4 separate regions of the Homo sapiens genome follow, and all the other regions are reported to be linked to region 4. The links are microRNA targets in miRTarBase. Many come from high-throughput screens and were not tested one by one. Region 4 holds a microRNA gene; each other region holds the end of a gene's coding sequence.
The links. The annotated mature microRNA hsa-miR-181b-5p reads AACAUUCAUUGCUGUCGGUGGGU and lies in region 4 at 2,163-2,185, shown strand. An mRNA with a match to its seed (bases 2 to 7 or 8) in the 3' UTR can be bound and repressed. Matches are read on the target gene's strand: a 7mer-m8 pairs with bases 2 to 8, a 7mer-A1 pairs with bases 2 to 7 and ends in A, and an 8mer does both.

Region 1: miRTarBase lists C17orf100 as a target of hsa-miR-181b-5p. Seed matches in the 3' UTR shown: 7mer-m8 at 3,512-3,518.
Region 2: miRTarBase lists INCENP as a target of hsa-miR-181b-5p. Seed matches in the 3' UTR shown: 7mer-m8 at 3,956-3,962.
Region 3: miRTarBase lists TAF5L as a target of hsa-miR-181b-5p. The part of its 3' UTR that is shown has no 7-base or 8-base seed match.

The regions. Positions count from the first base shown.
Region 1 is chr17:6,651,694-6,656,764 of GRCh38, reverse strand. It overlaps C17orf100 (chromosome 17 open reading frame 100), which reads right to left and starts at 5,003. Exons shown (of 1, transcript NM_001105520.2): 1 at 3,289-5,003. The coding sequence starts at 4,851. The coding sequence ends at 4,495. MIR4520-1 (microRNA 4520-1) reads left to right here and starts at 1,256; the gene lies at 1,256-1,325. MIR4520-2 (microRNA 4520-2) reads right to left here and starts at 1,316; the gene lies at 1,263-1,316. RefSeq lists an enhancer at 1,086-1,658 and silencers at 4,636-4,685, 4,986-5,065.
Region 2 is chr11:62,151,148-62,156,218 of GRCh38, reverse strand. It overlaps INCENP (inner centromere protein), which reads right to left. Exons shown (of 19, transcript NM_001040694.2): 19 at 3,050-4,457. The coding sequence ends at 4,243. Among named protein-coding and RNA genes, the nearest start is that of INCENP, 30 kb to the right of the region's middle.
Region 3 is chr1:229,589,536-229,594,606 of GRCh38, reverse strand. It overlaps TAF5L (TATA-box binding protein associated factor 5 like), which reads left to right. Exons shown (of 5, transcript NM_014409.4): 5 at 1-1,473. The coding sequence ends at 310. Among named protein-coding and RNA genes, the nearest start is that of ABCB10, 33 kb to the right of the region's middle. RefSeq lists an enhancer at 1-91.
Region 4 is chr9:124,691,563-124,696,633 of GRCh38, forward strand. MIR181B2 (microRNA 181b-2) reads left to right here and starts at 2,148; the gene lies at 2,148-2,236. All of the region lies in intron 2 of NR6A1 (nuclear receptor subfamily 6 group A member 1), which reads right to left. The region is part of intron 1 of MIR181A2HG (MIR181A2 host gene); the gene reads left to right. MIR181A2 (microRNA 181a-2) reads left to right here and starts at 880; the gene lies at 880-989. RefSeq lists an enhancer at 3,460-4,005.

The sequences.
Region 1 (5,071 bases), not on the chromosome of region 4:
TGACAGAAAGGGAAGGCAGGGGAAAGGCGCGCAGAAAGAGAGCGGCGGGGAAGGGAGGGCGAGCAGCATCTTGGATCTGGAGCTCAGAGCCCAGGTGTGGGGGGTCAGCAGGTCCGGAGGCTCTCGAAGGTGGCGCCAGGGGCTTTGGATTTGGTCCCGAGAACAAGCGGGAGCCGTTCGAATGTGTTAAGCAGGGGGAGTGAATTAGGGAGAAATCATTCCGGCTTCAGAAGGGCTTGGAAGGTCTGCAGCAGAGGTGGCGAGGCCGCTGGAGGTTTGAAATGGCTTTTAAAATAGAGAAACCGGGAGGACCGACGACCGCTCCGGCGACCGCAGTTTCCAGGCACCAGAGCTGTGTGGAATGAGGGGCGCTCAGGAGCATCCCCTTAATTCCAAGGAGATCGAGTAGCGGAAACATTTATTGAGCGTTTACTGTGTGTCACCAACTGCCCACCATAGGGAGGAAAAAAGGGAGGAGGGAGCGCGCCTTTCCACCTTCCGTGCCCCGTCCCCTCACCATGGAGTCGCGGGGCCACCTGCTCCGTGCGCATTTTCTCTCTTTCTGGCTCCCTTTGCCCCGCTTTCTCGGAAGCTCGGAGCAAGGGCGTGGAGTGCGGGGAGCAGGGCTCCGCAGGTTCAAGAGGACGCGGGCGATCGGGGGCGGGACGGATATTGGGCAGGGACGCGGGAGATGCTCAGGGTCTAGAACTGACTGCGCCGGATTCTTGTTTAGAGGGAGGTGAAGAGAGGAAGGAGGCGCGGGTGACACCGGGGGAGGCAGGAGGAGAGGGCTGGGAGGTGGGGAGAGGGGAGGACCTCATCCGGGCATGTTGCTTTGACGTTCCCTGAGACAGACATCCGGATTTGGCGATCTGGGAGAGAGCTAGAGCAGTGATGGGAATTTGGGCTTTCGCGGAAGAAAAAAAGTAACAGGACCGGGTAGAACACCCGGTAGATATGACATGAGATATGACGGGAGGTGGGTCGGGAAATCGAGAGCGTTCTCCTGTCTTGACTCCCCATCCCTTCCCTCTCACCACCCACTCCACCCCAGGTGATAAAGCCTGAAAGGTAGAGATCCAACAGCGCTAGCGGTTGAAACGTTTTTTAAAATAGAGAAAGCGAGAGGACCGACGGCGGCTCCGGTGACTGCTGAGTTTCCAGACAAGGGAGCTCTGTGCAATGAGGGGCGCACAGGAGCATGCCCTCAATTCCAAGAAGATCAGGTAGCCGGAAAATTTATTAAGCGCTTACTGTGTGCCACCTGCGTGTTTTCTGTCCAAATCAGAAAAGGATTTGGACAGAAAACACGCAGGAAGAAGGAATCAACCCCTGGTACAGCAGGCAGGCGAGGTAGGGGTAGGAGTTATGCACGTGTATGCAAGCCTGGATGGCTGGGAAGCCAACCTCCATCTAAAGGCAAGCGCGGACATGCACACACACACACACGCCTCACAAGTTGGATTGCAAGAGAGGGTGAAGTGGGCGAGGAGACCCAGTCAGCCGTGGCATTTGAGGAAGGTACATTTAGGCCACCGAATTCATTCCACCAACTTTGCACACTTGTCTTCCTTGTGCCAGGCTCTGGGACTCATTCCTTTTGAGGGTAAAAGTCTGCCTCCCTGGACTCCTGCCCCTCAGGCGCTCCCACAGCCCGGCACCGCCCCCTCGCCATTCCGGAGCCAGCGCGGGCTAAGCGGGCCTGGCCGGGGATGAGCGGAGCCACCGTCCCCATATTCCTCGGTGCCCCGGGACCGCAAGAGGGAGCCGTGGTTTCCGGAACTCCTCCCGCCCCTCCGGGCTTTTCCTCTGTTAGGCAGGTGGCGATTCGCTGTCTTTGCCTGTTATGGCCGCTGCCGTCGCCCTGGAGACAGGTGAGTAGCGCTCTGAGCCTGGAGTCTTCGCAGATAGAACTCTCCTTGGCCCAGACCTCTTCTCCCGCTTCCCCTGGGCCTCCTTCCAGGCCTCACTCCCGGCAGGATTAGTATTTGGACAGGGAGGAGAGAAGGCTCTTGCAGCGTCTAGAAAGGCTAAGGTACTCTGCAGTTTTCCTAATTTGGTTTGTTCGCACACCTTTGCTATTCAAACACGACCCCACCAGCTTCCCAGCGTGGGCGAGACTAAGGGAGAGGACTTGTGTCTTAAAGCGTGTCCTCCTTGTGTCTTAAAGCGTGTCCTTGATTGGTTTTCTGCTTCTCACATGAGCTTGCATACGTTTGAAATATCGTCGCCAGACCTGTGTATCATTGTGTTACTTGTGATTCTTATATATGCATATGTTCCATCATCTTTTAGGCTCTCTGGAGTCTCTTGTTCAGCTTGCATCCTAAGTTTTTCTTAACTGATTCAGCACGTGCTTTTGCGAAACTTAATCACTGTTAACAATTGTTACAATGCATTATTAAAATAGGGGAAGCCACAGTTATTACAGCCTACCTTAGAGATCACTGTTAAAATTCCTACATAGTGGCCCATGAGTGGTAGGTATTGTGTCTCATTTGTGTTGCTGTTTTCTTTGATGATTTCTCTTTACTTTTAAAGGTAACCCTCTTCCATGACTGTTCCTTAAAGTGGTGCGCTGTCCCAGTAGACCATGCTCTAGCTTTCCAAGCTGCTAGAACTGTCAGTGTTTCTCAGCCTTGGCACTATTGACATTTTGGGACCAGTGATTCTTCATCGTTGGCAGAGGGGAGGGTGTTGACCTGTGCACTGTAGGATGTCAGGTGGCATCCCCGGACTCTACCCGCTAGGTGCCAGTAGCACCTAATGTGCCACCCACCCCCTCCCAACAACTTTTCAACCAAACTAAAATGTCTCTAGAGGTTGCCATATATCCTCTGGGGGACAAAATCACACTTAGTTGAGAACCACTGTCCCACATTCTACACACAGAAGCCAAAAGGATATTTTTTAAATGTAAATGGCATCATGTCGTTCCCCTGTTGGAAACCCTTCAATGTTTTCCTGTTGACCTTAGAATAATCTCAAATTCCTTACTGTGGCTTAGAAGACCTTCTGTGGACTGGCCCCTGCTTGCTTTTAACTCCTCTCTTCCGTTCTGCTTCCATGTCTATATAATTGCTTCTCTCTCACTCCAGCCACACTGGCCTTCTTTCTGTTCCTTGAACATTCAAAGCTGGTTCCCATCCACCCTTTGTATTTGCTGTTCTTCTGCCTAGAATGCACCTGTTCCAGATCACTGTTCATTCACACATATCTCAGATTACATGTTAACTAATCAGCAAGGCCTTCCCTGACCATTTTATCAAAAGAAGCCACTTACTTCCATTCTCTATCACATTACCCATGTATTTCCTTCATAGTGCTAATCACAATAGAAAATTGTCTTGTTTCATCATTGCTTGTCTGCCTTTTCACCAGAGTGTAAGCTCCACTAGAGCTGGGACTTTGCCTTTTTTACTGCTATAGCCCAAGTTCCCAGAATACAGACAGTTCCCAACTTAAGATGGTTTGACTTATGATTTTTCGACTTTACAATGGTACAAAAGTGACATTCAGTAGAAATAGTACTTTAAGTACTCTTACAACCATTCTTTTTCACTTTTAGTACAGTATGCAATAAATTACATGAGATATTCAACATTTTATTATAAAACAGGCTTTCTGTTAGATGATTTTGCTCAACTTTAGGTGTTCTGAGCATGTTTAAGGTAGGCTAGGCTAAGCCATGATGTTTAGTAGGTTAGGGGTATTAAGTGCATTTTCAAATTACCATATTTTCAACTTACAATAGTTTCAACGGGAGGTAACCCCATCGTAAGTGGAGGAACATCTAGTGCCTGGCACAGAGCCGGTTCTCAATAAATATAACTCTTCTCCATCTTCTTCAAACCTCAGGCCAGGTTTCAGTGACCTCCTCTCACTTTCTAAGATTATTTTTGCTTGCTGGTGGGTTTACTGTCATTTTTAACCACATCTAACCTACCTTAAAAAAGTGTATGGATGGGGGTGCCAGGTACAAAGACTTAGCATAAAGAAAACGACCATTTACTTTGAAACATAAACAAAGGCCAATTAATAATTTATGAGTCTGTTCCTTGTCCCTCGAGTTTTTAGCAGGCATGGAATCATTCCACAGGTCATTATTTCAGTTTGGTCTCTGTTCCTAAGGGGTGAAGGTTTTCTGAGGGCTGTGGATCCCAAACTCACCTGGCTCAGAGGCTCAAACAGCCTCTCTTTGTCCATCAACCCGATTTAGACAGCATCCTGGGCCTGAAAACCTTCTGTGCTGGCTTCAAGTGAAAATAGTTCACTGGGTCAAAAGTAGGCTGGTCCAAGACGCAGGACGGTCAGTAAACGTTGGCTGTGTTCAGAAACTGCGGCTTGGCTGTTTCTTACATTGATTTATGGTTTGTTTCCATGAAACCGAAAATGATTGGTCCACCTGGCAGCTGGCTGGCTGGCTGGCAACTGGAGGCCTTTCTGTCCTGGCTGAGGGCCCTGGCCCCTTGGTGGCCTTTGGGAAGCAGCATCTCATCGGGCCGTTTTTTCGTTCTGGCGGGCGGCCGGCTTGGCCCGCGGGGTCGGGCTCTCCGCGCAGTGCAGAGACGTCTCCACCCTCAGGGACGAGGCTCTGACGTGGCGGGAGGTCGTTTCCGTGCGCTGCGAGGAGGATTCCACGTGCCGGGAGGACGCCTCGAGGATGCGAGGGAGCCGCTTCCCCGAGGGGGAGAGGGAGGGCCCCTCGCTGCGGCGCTGGGAGGTCTCCACCCGCCGGGACGACGTCTCCACGCGGTGGGACGAGGTCTCCACGCGGACCGTGGACGTCTCTGTGTAGCGGGTGGTCCCCACCCGGGGCGAAGACTGCTTGGCCCCTCGGGCTGAGGCCATTCTGCCGGCGTGAGGGGGCCAGGGAGGCCTCGGGGCACCCTACAGCCCAATGGTCACCGCAGGCAGAAGAGAGGAAAACTACGGTACTGCCATAGCCGGGAGCGCCACAACACGATGACGTGGAAGCACCATGGTCCTTCGAAGGCTAAAACACTGGACTCCTGCCCCTCAGGCGCTCCCACGGCCCGGGCCCCGCCCCCTCGCTATTTTGGAGCCAGCG
Region 2 (5,071 bases), not on the chromosome of region 4:
ATCCTAATAGCTTTTAGGTAGATACTATCAGATATTCTACAAGTTGTCTCTGGCAGGTTTTAATTCTTCTTTCCCAATGCCTTTTTCTTTTTGCCTTACTGTGCTGGCCAGAACTACCATAAAATGTTCAGAAGGAATGAGAGTGGGCATCCTTGTACTTGACTTGGTAGCAGGAGGAATGCATCTAGACATTCACTAGGAAGTGTTTGCTGGAGTTTTGTAGAAGTGCCCTATCAAACTGAGGAAATTCCCTTTAAATCTTAAAGCTTTTATCTTAAATTACTAGTATGGAATCATCAAATCATTGAATTTCTGTATCTATTAATTTAATCATATGATTTTCCTCCTCTATAATTAATAGTGAATTACATTAACTTCCAAATGTTAAACCTGCCTTGCATTCCTAAGATAAACTCTGTTTGGTCAAGATGCATTATCCTGGCCGGGCATAGTGGCTCACACCTGTAATCTCAGCACTTTGGGAGGACAAGGTAGGTGGGTCACTCGAGGCCAGGAGTTTGAGACCAGCCTGGCCAACATGGCAAAACCCCATCTCTACTGAAAATACAAAAATTAGCTGGGCTGGTGGTGCATACCCGTAATCCCAGCTACTCAGGAGGCCAAGGCACAAGAGTTTCTTAAACCCAGGAGGCAGAGGTTGCAGCAAGCCGAGATCCCACCACTGCACTCCAGCCTGGGCAACAGAGTGAGACCCTGCCTCCAACAACAACAACAACAACAACAAAAAGTGTAATCCTTTTTATTTAACTTGTTGGACTTGATAAAACTCTAAGAATTCTTGTGTTGATGTTCATGAGGGATAATTGTCTTCTTTTCTTGCAATGTCTGATTTGGGGATCAAAGCAATGCTGGCCTCAGAGACAGAACTGAGTATTCTTTCCTCTTATATTTCTTGTGAGAGGTTGTGCAGAATTAGTATTATTCCCTTAAATACGTGGCAACATTTACCACTAAAGCTACCTATGTCTACCGTTTTCTTTGTGATAACACATCTTTCATAGAGCTATGTAGGTTTTCCACTTCTTCCTAAGTAAACTAATTTGTATCTTTTAAGGAATCTGCATGGGTTCATCTAAATTGTCAAATGTATTCCTAGAAGTTATTCGTAATAGTCTCTTATTATTGTTGTAATATCTGTAGAATCTGTAGTGAAGCTACCTAATTTCTGACATTGGTAATCTATCTTTTCTCCTGATCAGTCTAAAGAGAATTTTCTTGAGCTTCTCAAAGAACCAGCTTTTGGTTAATTAATTTTCTATATTTTCTCTTCCTAATGTCTAATTTCTGTTTTACTTGCATGATTTCCCCTTTTCTGTGTACACTTTTAATTTGGTCTTTTTTTCCTAGTTTCTTAAAGTGGAAGCTGAGGTCACTGATTTGAGACCTTTTTTTCTAACACAGGCATTGAGCCCTATAAATTCCCCTCAGTACTGCTTTACTTGCATCACGGGATACAAAGCCGACACAAAAGCCAACTGTATTTCTATACACCAGCAATGAACAAGTAGAAACCAAAAATCAGAAAAACAATACCATTTACAACAGCTCCAAGAAAATAGTTACAAATCTAAGAAAATATGTACAAGATCTGTATGCTAAAACTATAAAATGCTGAAGAAAGAAACTAAACATGCAAATAAATGGAGAGACACGTCATGTTCACGGATTAAAAGGCGATCATAAATATGTTAATTCTCCCCAAACTTATCTATAGATTTAATGCAATTCTAATCAAAATCCCAGCAGGACTTTTGTAGCTAAGCTAATCCTAAAATTTAAATGGAAAGGTAACACTGATACAATAGTCAAAATAATTTTAAAAGAAAAATAAAATTGGAAGAATTATATTACCAGATTTTAATACTTATTACAAAGCTATAGTCATCTTGACTTATGTGGTATTGGCAAAAGGAGAGATGTACAGATCAATGGGAGAAAATAAAAAGTCTAGAAATAGACCCATACCAATATGGCTAATTCCTGACAAAGATATAAAAGAAATTCAGCAGAGAAAGGATAGTCTTTCCAACAAATGGTGCTGGAACAACTAGACATCCATCCATATGCTCCTAAACACAAACAAAAAACATAAACCTCATACTTAAAAAAAACTTAAAATAGATCATAAATCTAAACGTTAACATGTAAAATAATAAAACATTTAGAAGAAAACAAAGGAGAATTAGGACCTAGGACTAGACAATAGTTTCTTAGACATGACAAAAAAATCACACTCTATTTTAAAAATTTAATTAATTGGACTTCATCAAATTAAAATTTTTGTTCTCTGAAAAACACTGGTAAGTAAACAAAAAGACAAGCTGGGCTAGGCATGGCGGCTCATGCCTACAATCTCAGCATTTTGGGAGGCCAAGGCAGAAGGATCACTTCAGGCCAGGAGTTCGAGACCAGCCTGGCCAACGTAGCAAGATCCCATCTCTAAAAAAAAAAAAAAAAAAAAAAAAAAATTTTTTTTTTAAAGACAAGCTACAGACTGGGAGAAAATGCTGCAAAACACATATCTGACAACATATTTGTATCCATAATATGTAGATTCTTAAACCCAATGGTAATATAACAATCCAATTTTAAGATGAACAAAAGATTTGAAGACTCTTCACCAAAGACATACAGATGACAGAAATGCACATGAAAAGATGTTCACCATCAGCCATTAGGGAAATTCAAATTAAAGCCATGATTAGATATCAGTACACACCTATCAGAATGGCTAAAATAAGAAACAGACAATACCAAGTGCTGATAAATATGCAGACCAATTGGAATTACCTTTCTGCTGAATAACAACTTTTTCTTAAACACACTATGTAAAGATGCTTTAAGTGATATTTTGATATTGTGCTTTTAGACAGACACACTCGCCAATTGACTCAGTACAAGTGTCTAGTCAGAGAATATAGGGAAAAAAATTTGAATTGCACAACATATGTGAACAAAACATAAAATGCTTTTCTTGGCATGGGTAGAAACTTCCAGACTTCCGTCTATTGTGTTCACTATTTCCTCATTTTTAAAAGTGTTCTTGGATTTAGGCTTTATTTTGTCCTTAAGCAGAACTTCTGAAAAAGTTCAAATAGTAAACATATTCAGCTTTGCATGGAGGGGCCTCTGCTGCACAACTTAACACTGCCCTCGGAGCAGAGCAACTGGAGACAACAATGGAAATGGGCATTTCCATTGCTTGTGTTTCGATAAAACTTTAAAGAACCGACTGTGGCTGGATTTGGCCCACAGGCCATAGTTTGACAACCCGGGGCTACAGTAGCAGATATATGCATTCAGAAGGCAGCAGTAGGCAGCTCACAGGCAGGACCACAGCCAGCTTTCATTGGTTCTAAGCATTTAATTAGCAGCTGCCTGGTTTTGCTGGGGAAATATCTCGCTGCTTGCAAGCACTGGTCCCAAGGTGGTCTCAAGGGATACCCCTTTTCTACTCAGACCTCATGCTTCACCAGCACATAGATGCTCTCAAGTCCATTTGCACCTGAGCAGCACGGGTGGAGCCTGGGGAATGGAGAGGGTAGGGGACTAAGTGGCAGGGCCGTGTCAAGACCCAGGTCTTTCCCAATGAACAAACTCCCCTTTACAAACAGGGAGCACCCCAAAAAATAGGAAGGAGCTCCACCTGCCCCATCGTGACAGTAACTGACGTGTTCCTCAAGGGTTATCCAGGCAGTGGAACCACTCACTGCAGCAGCATCTCCGAGGGTGGGGGCCTGCACCTGGTGATCCTGAGGCACACCGCAGGTGATGGAACAGTACCTTCGTCCTGCAGGCCACTGGTGGCCCAAGACACACAGCTACAGGGCTGGGACTGAGGCGCCCAGTCTTCATGGTATCAACAGCAGGCTTGAAGGAATATACTTTATTAATCTACCTCCCAAACGCTAAAATGCCAAAGACTAAAATGCTAACATTCAGCTAAATTAAAACAACTATTTACAGAGCACTGTCTGCAGGCCATGTGGGGCTGGGCCCATTTCTTCCCCACCCACCCACCCAGCCCATCCTCCAAACAGGCCTGGGGCCACCTGCCACCTGCAGCAGAAACACCCAGCACAGAGGACGTTTATATACACCTGGCCAAGCCCTCCACAATGGCATGCCAAGAAGGAGGGCAACAGACCAAGACAGAGACCGACAGACAGACAGATAGACATGGACAGGAGGCGAGGCTGCCAAGAAGGCCGCAGGCCAGCCTCAGTGCTTCTTCAGGCTGTAGGCCAGGCTGCTGGGGACCCTGGCGCCCTGCAGGGGCGGTGAGTTCCAGACAGCAGAGCTGGTGCGCTTGTGATAGCGGGGCTTGCTCTTCTTGAAGATATCCTCCAAGTCCAGTGGGAGAATGGTTCCAAAGAGCTCCAGAAGGTTCGGTGGGTGGTAGTACTGGTGAATGATAGCCTGGCTGAGCGGGGTGCCTGCAGGAGACCACAGACCAGACACTGCCTTGGGGCTCTCCATGAACCTCCCCATCCCTTGCCCACCACAGAGCCCTGTCACCCTCTCCAACCTCCCTACAGAGAGCTCTGTCACCCTCTTCAGCCCTGCCCCTGCCTGTACCACCATCAAACCCAGAGAACGCCCTTGTGTCACATCCTTCCAACCTTCCTCTGGCAGCTTAACCTTACAAAGTCCTTGAGAGCTCGCATGAGCCAGGCACTCCTTGAACCTGTCCCGACCACCACCTGGGAGGCAGGTTCTGTATTCTCCCATTCAGCAGATTTGCCCAAAGGCATACAGCTAATAATGGCAGAGCCTGTGTTTGAAGACAAGCCCAGTTCCAGAGCTTAAGCATAGGATGCCATCCTTGACCACCTTGGCCAGCTGCTTCTCACAGACCCCACAGGCCCTGGTGCAGTGCTGAGGGGGCCTCTGGGCAGTGGATGTGGGAAGGCACAGTCCTGACAACGGGGCTGAGGAAGACCCAGGGGATCAGGAGGCCAGACATGCACCAGCACTTGCTCAGCACCAGGTGCGGCTCTAAGGGCCAGCCGTGAGCTCACTCATGTCACTCTCAACAGAACTCCTCAGC
Region 3 (5,071 bases), not on the chromosome of region 4:
CGAGGACCAGCGGTTGAAGCTGTGGGACTTGGCCTCTGGGACCCTTTATAAAGAGTTGAGAGGCCACACAGACAATATCACCAGCCTCACCTTCAGTCCAGACAGCGGCTTGATTGCCTCTGCCTCCATGGACAACTCGGTGCGCGTCTGGGACATCAGGAACACTTACTGCAGTGCACCTGCCGACGGCTCCTCCAGCGAGCTCGTGGGCGTGTACACCGGGCAGATGAGCAACGTCCTGAGCGTGCAGTTCATGGCCTGTAACCTTCTTCTGGTGACTGGAATTACACAAGAAAATCAGGAACATTAATTTTTTAACTTTGTTGGAACGGACTGGGGTAACAGTGGAAAGCCTCCAGTTGCAATCCTTCAATGAGCTGAGATTGAATCATTGACTGTGAAAGAGCCCCCTCCTCCCCTCTCTCCTGGGCCCTCATTCCGGGCAGGTCCCCCTTCACTCAGCCCCCCAGTGTCGAAGGCCAAGGTTGGGGAGGGGAACAGGAGAGAGGCAATGATGAGTGATCAAGAATTAGAGTGCCCTGGAGGTCACTCACAAGTCCTCATGGAGACTCTGCCGTGACCTCGCGCATGCGAGCACCTTCCTGTCTCTCATTTTCACCATCTGACTGGGGCTAGGTTTGGTTAGAGGGCGGCTGTAGAGCACCCTCAGGAGAAGTGGCGCCGCAGGGGTCACGCATGGTCCAGCCCTCAGGTGGGAGGGAAGTCCTTGTTGGCAGAGGGATGTGGGGCGGGAATGAGGAAAGGGGAGGGCATGATCCTGGCAAATAGTCTTTCCTTTTCCGTAATTACAGAGAACCAGGATTTTTTTTAATTATTGTTATTATAATTATAATTATTATTATTATTGACATGAGGAAACCTAGCACTGGCAGAGGGCACCTTCTCTGCTTTTAATCTTTCAGGTTTGACTCCTGGCACTGGTTTTGATACTTGGAATTTTGAGGTTCAGGGAATTCAGAGAATTTGGTAGCACAGTGTATTGGGAGAAAGGGAAATTTCGGGTGACAGATTGATCACCCTGGCTGACATGTTTCTGGAAGTGGGTGGGTGGGTTTGATTGAGAACACTTTGGGCTCCTGCAGTGATGGTGGGAAAGAAAAATTCTTTCCAAAGCTGCACTTCTCTTAATAATTCTCTCCCCTCAAAAGAAAGATTATGATAAAGAATAATTTGGAGTAATAAGTAACAAGATAGAATTAGAAAAATGTTGAATTTCTGAATGACCATTCAGAGGTGTGGCTTTTTCCACGTCTTTTTCTCCTGCAATGAACTGCTCCCACGTCCTGCACTGCAATACCAGTCTAATGAACACTTTGTGAAACAAATCGTAAGTATGTACGCACGCATATCAAACTATGCTCTGAGGATAAAGCAAGTTCTAATTTGTGGAAAAAGGATTAAATATTTCTGTTTTCTGAAAAGAGTTATTTTGTATTTTGTTTTCTATTAAAATGTATTTAGTTTCAAAAAAAAAAGTGTTGGCATCTCATTTCATCTCTGAGGACAGGCGGGTGAGTGTTCTGTCCTGGGATGGTGTGTCTCTCTCACCTCTCATCAGGGCAATAACCCGTCGGTTACCTAGGCCACACTGTCCCCAACGAAGGTGCATTTTTATCTGTTCTTGGGTTCTGTTTAGCTTACTTTGAATCATGATTCCCTTAGTATTCACTTGGATTATTGATGGCATTTAATGCTGTTTGTACATCCAAGATTGATAGTTGCTGACTGGAGACCACATATATTTCACCATCTAGAGTCATTTGATGAGATCCTACTTTGCACTTCCTTCAAAGACCCCACTATAAAATCTCCAAGGGGCATAAGAACTGGACTGTTCAATAAACTCAAACTATGTATTGAACAATTCCAGATAAAGGACTCGTTCAAAGTAAAGTGAACTTCAAAACATAATTTTCTCAGCCGGGTGTAGTGGCTCACTCTTGTAATCCCAGCACTTTGGGAGGCCAAGGCAGGCAGATTACCCAAGGTCAGGAGTTTAAGACCAGCCTGGCCAACATGGCAAAACCTCATCTCTACTAAAAATATAAAAATTAGCCGGGCGTGGTGGCGGGCACCTGTAATCCCAGCTACTCAGAAGTCTGAGGCAAGAAGAATCGCTTGAACCTGGGAGGCGGAGGTTGCAGTGAGCTGAGATCGAATCACTGCACTCCAGCCTAGGAGACAGAGCGAGACTGTCTCAAAAAAAAGAAAAAAATAATAATTTTCTGACAAGGACACCAAGAATCATTAGGAAATTAAGTAGGAAGACTAGAATTCTATGCCAGTTTTTTTTTTTTTTACTTGAACCTACAATGCTGATTAATCAGAAATGTTTCTTATTTATAAAATCCATATATTTGAGACACTGGAAGAAGGGTCCTTTGGTAGTAGCCTGATGGCATCACCTTCCGTGTGTTCTGCACGTAAAGCCTAGAGTTCAAATGTGTTCTGATCTGTAATAAGCAAACTCTTAGGTGAGATGCTGTGGTATATTACCAGAAACAACAAAATCTCTAAGTTGGACAGAATTATTCTCTGAAGTGAAAGTACATCTCTGACAGGATGATTTGGAAAGGTTTTGTGTGTGTTTGTGGGTTAGCGCAGAGAGATTGCACTCTTTTCTCCAAAGGGTAGGCATGCAGGACTTGCACCATTTTGTAGACGACATACTTAATGCGCAGCAACGCTCTGTTACTCGTCCATATCTGACATGGAATAGTCACAGGTCTTGAATATGCTCCATAGATTCAGTATCCTTAGGTTCTAGCAGGAGGGTGTAGCCATGGAGATAGAAAAATATTTTTTAAAAACCTCCAAAAAAGAAATAAGGATATTTAATAAGCATGTAGGTAATAGTTACCATGGGCTAGAAACTGCTCCAAGTGGTTTATGAAAATTAACTTATTTTATCTCAAAAACCCTCTGAGGGGAGTGTATTTTTAACCCCATTTCACAGATGAGGATTCCGAGGCACTGAAGGATTAAGTCACTTGCCAAGGGTCACAGCTGGTTGTCGAGGAAGCCAGATTTTAACCTGGGCATTCTGGCTGCAGAGCTCCTGCTTTTATCCCTACTCTGTTGTCTGCCTTCATTCCTGCAGTACCAGGTAAAGACGGAACTGTGGTTAGGAGTAACTAAATGTTCCCAGCCAAAGTTACGAGACTCTTGCTTCTCTCTGCCCAATAAACTAGCAGCAACAAACAGGATCAGGACCTGGCAGTAAGAATAGACCTAAACAATATATGGCAAAAAGAAACTTCAGGCCATGTGTGGTGGCTCACGCCTGTAATCCCAGCACTTTGGAGGCCGAGGCGGGCGGATCACCTGAGGTCAGGAGTTCGAGACCAGCCTGGCCAACATGGTGAAACCCTGTGTCTACTAATATTAAAAAATTAGCTGGACCCACTTGGTGACGCATGCCTGTAATCCCAGCTACTTGGGAGGCTGAGGCAGGAGAATCACTGGAACCTGGGAGGCGGAGGTTGCAGTGAGCCGAGATCGTGCCACTGCACTCCAGCATGGGCAACAGCGAGATTCCGTCTCAAAAAAAAAAAAAAAGAAAGAAACTTCAGAATATTCTGTTACTCTGAACCACAATGATAAATCTCTAAAATGTGTATAAGGTGCGGAAGTGTTTAACCAGCTGAGGCCACGCATGGTGGCTCACACCTATAATCCCAGCACTTCGGGAAGCCAAGGCAGGATTACTTGAGCCCAGGAGTTCAAGACCAGCCTGGGCAACATAGTGAGACCCTATCTCTACAAAAATTTTTTAAAAAATAGCAGGGCGTGGTGGCTCACTACTGTGCCCCCAGCTACTTGGGAGGCTGAGCTGGGAGGATCACTTAAGCCTGGGAGGTTGAGCCAGCCGTGAGCCATGATGACACCACTGCACTCCAGCTTGAGAGACAGCACAAGACCATGTCTTAAAAAAAAGTTTTTTAATAAAATGTAAAAATAACCAGCTGAAATTTCTTAGAATGACAGACTCAGAAAATCAGACTGTAATGTTAATTTAGCAAGAGACTGGCCAAATGGAAGAAAATTAAAGCAATGAATAAAGATGAAATAGGGAACAATTTAAAGTTTTTGTATTCAAGATTCAGCTTCTAAGGATATGATTACCACCTTTCTGTTTGTTTTATTTACATGTTTAAAATGTCTTGGTGGCATAAGAAAATGTATTGAGCATGGCAGACTTCTGATTTTGCTGTTGCCCAGATGGGTGTTTAAGTGTACGGATTAAAAGATTAGTCTGTGCTTCAACTTGGCTCTCAGTCGCATATTTTAGAAAGGTGTTCATTATATACCCAGCCCAGACCAAAAATTCTTTTTTTTTTTTTTTTGAGACGGAGTCTTGCTGTGTCACCCAGGCTGGAGTCTAGTGGCGTGATCTCAGCTCATGCAACCTCCACCTCCCTGGTTCAAGCCATTCCCCTGCATCAGCCTCCCGAGTAGCTGGGATTACAGGTGCACACCACCATGCCTGGCTAATTTTTTGTATTTTTAATAGAGATGGGATTTCACCATGTTGGCCAGACCAGTCTTGAACTCTTAACCTCAGGCAATCCACCTGCCTCAGCCTCCCAAAGTGCTGGGATTACAGGAATGAGCCACCACACCTGGCCAAAAATTCATATTGACACCTCACATAGCAGCAAAGTTAGTCTGAAACTGCATTGGGCTAAACAGAAAGTCTCTATTATAGAATTTAAGGAACACACTTTTTTTTTTGGAGACGAAGTCTCACTCTGTCACCCAGGCTGGAGTGCAGTGGTATGATCTTGGCTTACTGCAATCTCTGCCTCCCGCGTTCAAGCAATTCTCCTGCCTCAGCCTCCCAAGTAGCTGGGATTACAGGCATGTACAATTATTACACCTAGCTAATTTTTGTATTTTTAGTAGAGACGAGGTTTCACCATGTTGGCCAGGCTGGTCTCAAACTCCTGACCTCAGGTGATCCACTTGCCTCGGCCCCCCAAAGTGCTGGGATTACAGGCATGAGCCACCATGCCCGGCCAGGAACACAAATGTTTCTTGTCAATTTGAC
Region 4 (5,071 bases):
AATCAAAAATAACCACTATGTCCTATAATGTACTGGTATCGTTTCAGCCAGAACAAATGACATCTGACATTTTAGTTACACTCTGTGTTCTCAACTAAGAAGAAATGCAAGCTTTACATTAGGTGGTGGGTTTTTGGTTTATTTTTTGCTTTTTCAATATGGAAAATAGCTTGTGGACTATCACTAACACCTCTGTGGTAACTTAGTAATGCAGGATCTCAGCAAAGGAGATCATCAATCATGGAGGTCGAGGTTTTTCATCTTCCCCTATGACCTCACCTATAGACCTACCTGCTATTATTATAGGCAAACAAGTAGAAGAAATTTACATGTTTGACTTTGGCTCTGCAGTGATGGGTCTACTCCTAGATATCAACAGTAAGTTCTGTAGTAGACAACAGAAGCAGTATGATGAGTGAGCACTGGAAACATGAAGTCCAGTATTCAAATTCTGGCTTATAACCTTGGCTCCTGGCAATGTAACTTTAGGCAAATCACTTCAAGTTTTTTCATCAGGAAAATGTGGGTTGTTGAGAATTTAATGAGATAAAATATACAAATCCTAGTATATAGCAGATCCCCAATATATGTTAATCTCTTACCCTTGTTAACAATTAAAATACTACTGCAAAATCAGGTATTTTACATTTTTAGAATCACAAAATAATACCATTCAAAGACATTTTCTCAGACATTCATTTGAGTCTGCTTGTACAAATTACTGCACAGTCTATCCCACAGTTCATTAGTTCTCTGCTGCACACAAATTGATTTTATAATTTAAATACTCTCGACTTGAAACCCAGAGAGGAATGTAAGAGCATCCATCAGCGGTGGTCTCACTGCTCACTGGTTCTTGGGATGTGGATGGGAGAATGAAGAAGGGCTATCAGGCCAGCCTTCAGAGGACTCCAAGGAACATTCAACGCTGTCGGTGAGTTTGGGATTTGAAAAAACCACTGACCGTTGACTGTACCTTGGGGTCCTTACAGACGACACTACATTTCCTGAAGCAAAAGAGCAAGCTGTACCTTCACATGTCACATGAGTTCACCAGAAATGGTCCTGCAATCCCCCAAATGTGGTCCAGTGAATTTTATTCCTACTGCTCACTGTTCCTTGCTTTCTGTTGTGTGTTTTATTATTATTTGTTTGTTTTTACAAAAAAAGTGTTTCATTTCAACAAGGTAAGGAGCAGTCCATGATGATATCTAATGTACCTACATGTCTCCTAGATATGCACCATTCTGGTGAGAAACAGGACGTAGCAAGTAAAAATTTATTAAAAATACGTATTTTGTTTTGGAATAAAATCCAGTTAAATAATTACTCCCATTTCTCCCACATCCTCTCAAAATTTTTAATTAGGGGCAAGGGGAGGATTTAATAAGCAAAAATAGCACAAAATTATCCAATTGTGACAGTTCTTATCACATTTCACTTTGAATTATAGTTAATATGGTTAATTTTTGATATCCCAGTTAGAGCATGAGCTATTGCCTTACTAGTGCCCACATATCCCCACATATGCTTATTTAAATGTTTGCTAAATTCAAGCAAAAACTTAGCCCTGGAGTCAGTCAGATCTGGGATGAATCTTGGCTCAAGCCCTTAACTAGTTATTTGACCCCCTAAGCAAGTGTCTCAGTTTTCTCACATATAAAACAGAGGCTAAGAGTACCTATCATGGAGTTTTGAGACTCAATGAGATAATATATAAGGTGCTTTGTACCATTACTAGCCCACAGCAAATGCTCAATATATGTAAGCTGTTATTATTAAACTCCAACATAATCTGCTAATTTACCTCAAAAAAGCACTCATACTTCTCAGTTCAAAACAAAGAGGAAAAGCAGGTCCCTCAGCTGTGGTTTACAGGTACTAATATGCAAGCACTGCCTGTGTGGCGCAGTGCTACCTGTGAGGTTCTCCAAGCACTCCTTCCTTCTCTGAACCACAGCTTCCTCATCTGCAATAACCTCCCAGCTCCAATGTCAATGTTATGGACACCTGTGTGGGCCCTCAATCATGCAGATGGCTGGTTACTAAGGGAGAAGCCAGACACACAGACTTCAAAGAACTGAGATGGAAAAGAAGAGCCAGGAGTCAGCCAGGGAGGGCAAAGGCAACCCCACCAACTGAAAACACTGATGGCTGCACTCAACATTCATTGCTGTCGGTGGGTTTGAGTCTGAATCAACTCACTGATCAATGAATGCAAACTGCGGACCAAACAACCCAAAGGAAGCAAAAGCATGTGCAGAGAGTCGCCTGAGTGCAGCAGCTACTGCTGTGAGTGGGAGCTGCTACTATTTCCAAAACACTAGCTAAAGCTTTTCTTGTTCTCCTTGGTTCTAACATGGAGTAAGTTCTCTAAATTCCTAGTACTTTTCTCCTTTTTCAATAGTCTAGATTTAAGGAAATGATATTTTATAGGAAGAATTAAATACATATCTGGATATCACATCACATTTTAAAAATCAGTACATTCAGAATTTCTAAACAGAATCATATGCTTATTATTTAGAAATTCAAATACAAAAATATACAAAGTAAAAATTGAAAATCCCTTCAATCATCATCTGCAATCCATTTCCTCGGAGGAAAACATGTATAATTATAATAAACTTATTAAGATAATAAATATCATAACTAGAATTTATTTTATATCCTTGAAGACCTTTATCCATACATACACAGATAAATAGCTGTAATTTTGCATGTTTTGGGGGGAGAGTGGCTTAGACAAAAATAAGCTCATTTTTACCTATTGTTCTATAATCTATTTTGTTATTCAGCTATATATCATAGACTTCCACAACAGTCTTTTATGTACTCGTCATTCTTTTAAATGGCTATATAGTATGACTTAATATGAATGTTCTGGTTATTATTCAGATGTACATCAATATTCTCTTTTGACAAAAACTATGAGGCTCATTCATTCTAACCTTTGCAAACCATGTCCCTCAAACAGGAAAAACACCTAAGTGAGATAGAAGATGTACATTTTTCTTAACAAAAAATTTAAATGTAGTATCAACTCTCTAAATCCTGTAACATGAGATAAGCCACTAAATCCCATGTTAAAGAAAGAAAAACAAGGCCCTTGGTCATGAATAATTTATCATACACTTAAGTCTAAGAAGAAGCAGATTCTCATAGCAAAAGTCAAATAAGACAGTAAGAGAAGAGTCTTGTCAAATTAGCCTTGACAATTAAGCAAGCCTTAATTTGACAAGGCTTTCCTGTCAAATTAGGAAGGAGAAGTGATGGGGTAATGAGACAAGAACCAGAAAGAGAAATCAAAGCCAAAAGAAAAATCTAAAGAAAACTATGAGAGTTCAGAGAAAATATCAGGTTCAAGCCAGTGTTTCCCAAACTTCTTGTACACCAGAATCATCTAGAGTTGCTTTTAAAATGGCAAATTCCTGAGCCCTACTCTAGACGAGGTGATTTTGGGTCACTGGAAGCTGGAAGCAAAGTAAATAAAGTTCACTAGCTTAACATCGGCTTCCTGCCCCCATCCCACCACCACATTTCATGTCATCCACTTTTCAACTATTGCCCAACCTTTTGTGTCACCACCTGAAATCGCCACTATTCTGCTGAGTGCAGACAGGTAGAGTCACATTTGTGCTGCTTTTAAGTATCTCCAGACTACATAAAATTTTGCACCATGTTTGGTGGCCAAATATACATCAAATTGTGTCTGATGTTTTATGGAAATGAATGGATTTGGATTTACGCTATCTAAAAAACTAAAACCTACCCAAAGAAATTACCAAAAGGTTTTTTTGTGTGTGTTTTTCTTTCGTTTGTTTGTTTTTTTGAGACAGTCTTGCTCTGTTTCCCAGGCTGGAGTACAGTGATGCGATCTCGGCTCACTGCAACCTCTGCTTCCTGGGTTCAAGTGATTCTCGTGCCTCAGCCTCTCAAGTAGCTGGCCCGCCACCACACCCAGTCAATTTTTGTGTTTTTAGAAGAAATGTGTTTTTAGTAGAGCCATGTTGGCCAGGCTGGTCTCAGACTCCTGACCTCAAGTGATCCGCCCGCCTCGGCCGCCCAAATTGCTGGGATTATAGGCATGAGTCACCGCGCCCGGCCCGAGGGGGTCTTTATAGAAGAGTTTTTTGTGAGACTGGTAGACACACAGAAGGTACTCCACGCAGTCTTGTTTTTCAAGATGCTGTGCATTCTAGGCATTTATTTTTAACCAATTATTTCCAAAATTTCTGAAAACATTAGAAAAGAATGTCTGACACGTACTTTGAAAAATGTACACTTGAACAAGCATGCTATTTATTTACAGACTATTACATAGTCTTTAAATATGCCAATGAAACAATTATATATTTCATTAAACCAAATCCAAGTTTTCTCTTGGATAAAACTAAGTACTACAAGAAGGGAGACAATTATGTAAGTTAAAGGGTGTTTTCTGCAGATAGGCCTCAAAATAAATACCTGTAACAGAAAAATTACATGGCATGTATAGGGGACAGGAAGAGAATAGTCCAGAGACTGTATTAGGGAGTCATAAGGAATGGCACTGAAAAGGTAAAAGGACATATTACAGAAGGACTTGTGAGCAAGGCGCAAAGTCAATTAGTCCAACAGAGAGCCGTTTTAAATGCTAAACTCAGCAAGGAGACAATGAAAGCAAGACTGGGAAGAGTCACTAAGCAGATGAAGTGAGGGGAAGAAAAGAGAAAAAAGAGAACTTTCTTGCACAAGTTAGCAGGGGTAGAACTGAGTCAACAGGAATGGAATGAAAGGAAAGGTTATCTCAAAAAGGCATACTTTGGCTTTTGTTTTTCAAAATAAAAGCCTACTGGCTGACCCCCTTCCATCATCCTGTTCGGTGTATAGCCTCACAGATATTTCAAGATACTTAAAATGCATGTATTTATACTTAGAGAAAATAACATCACAAATTATACATAATGTTCTCTAGCTTTTTTTTTTTTTTTTTTTTGAGATGGAGTCTCGCTCTGTCACCCAGGCTGGAGTGCAGTGGTGTGATCTCGGCTCACTGCAACCTCTGCCTCCTGGGTTCAACTGATCCTCT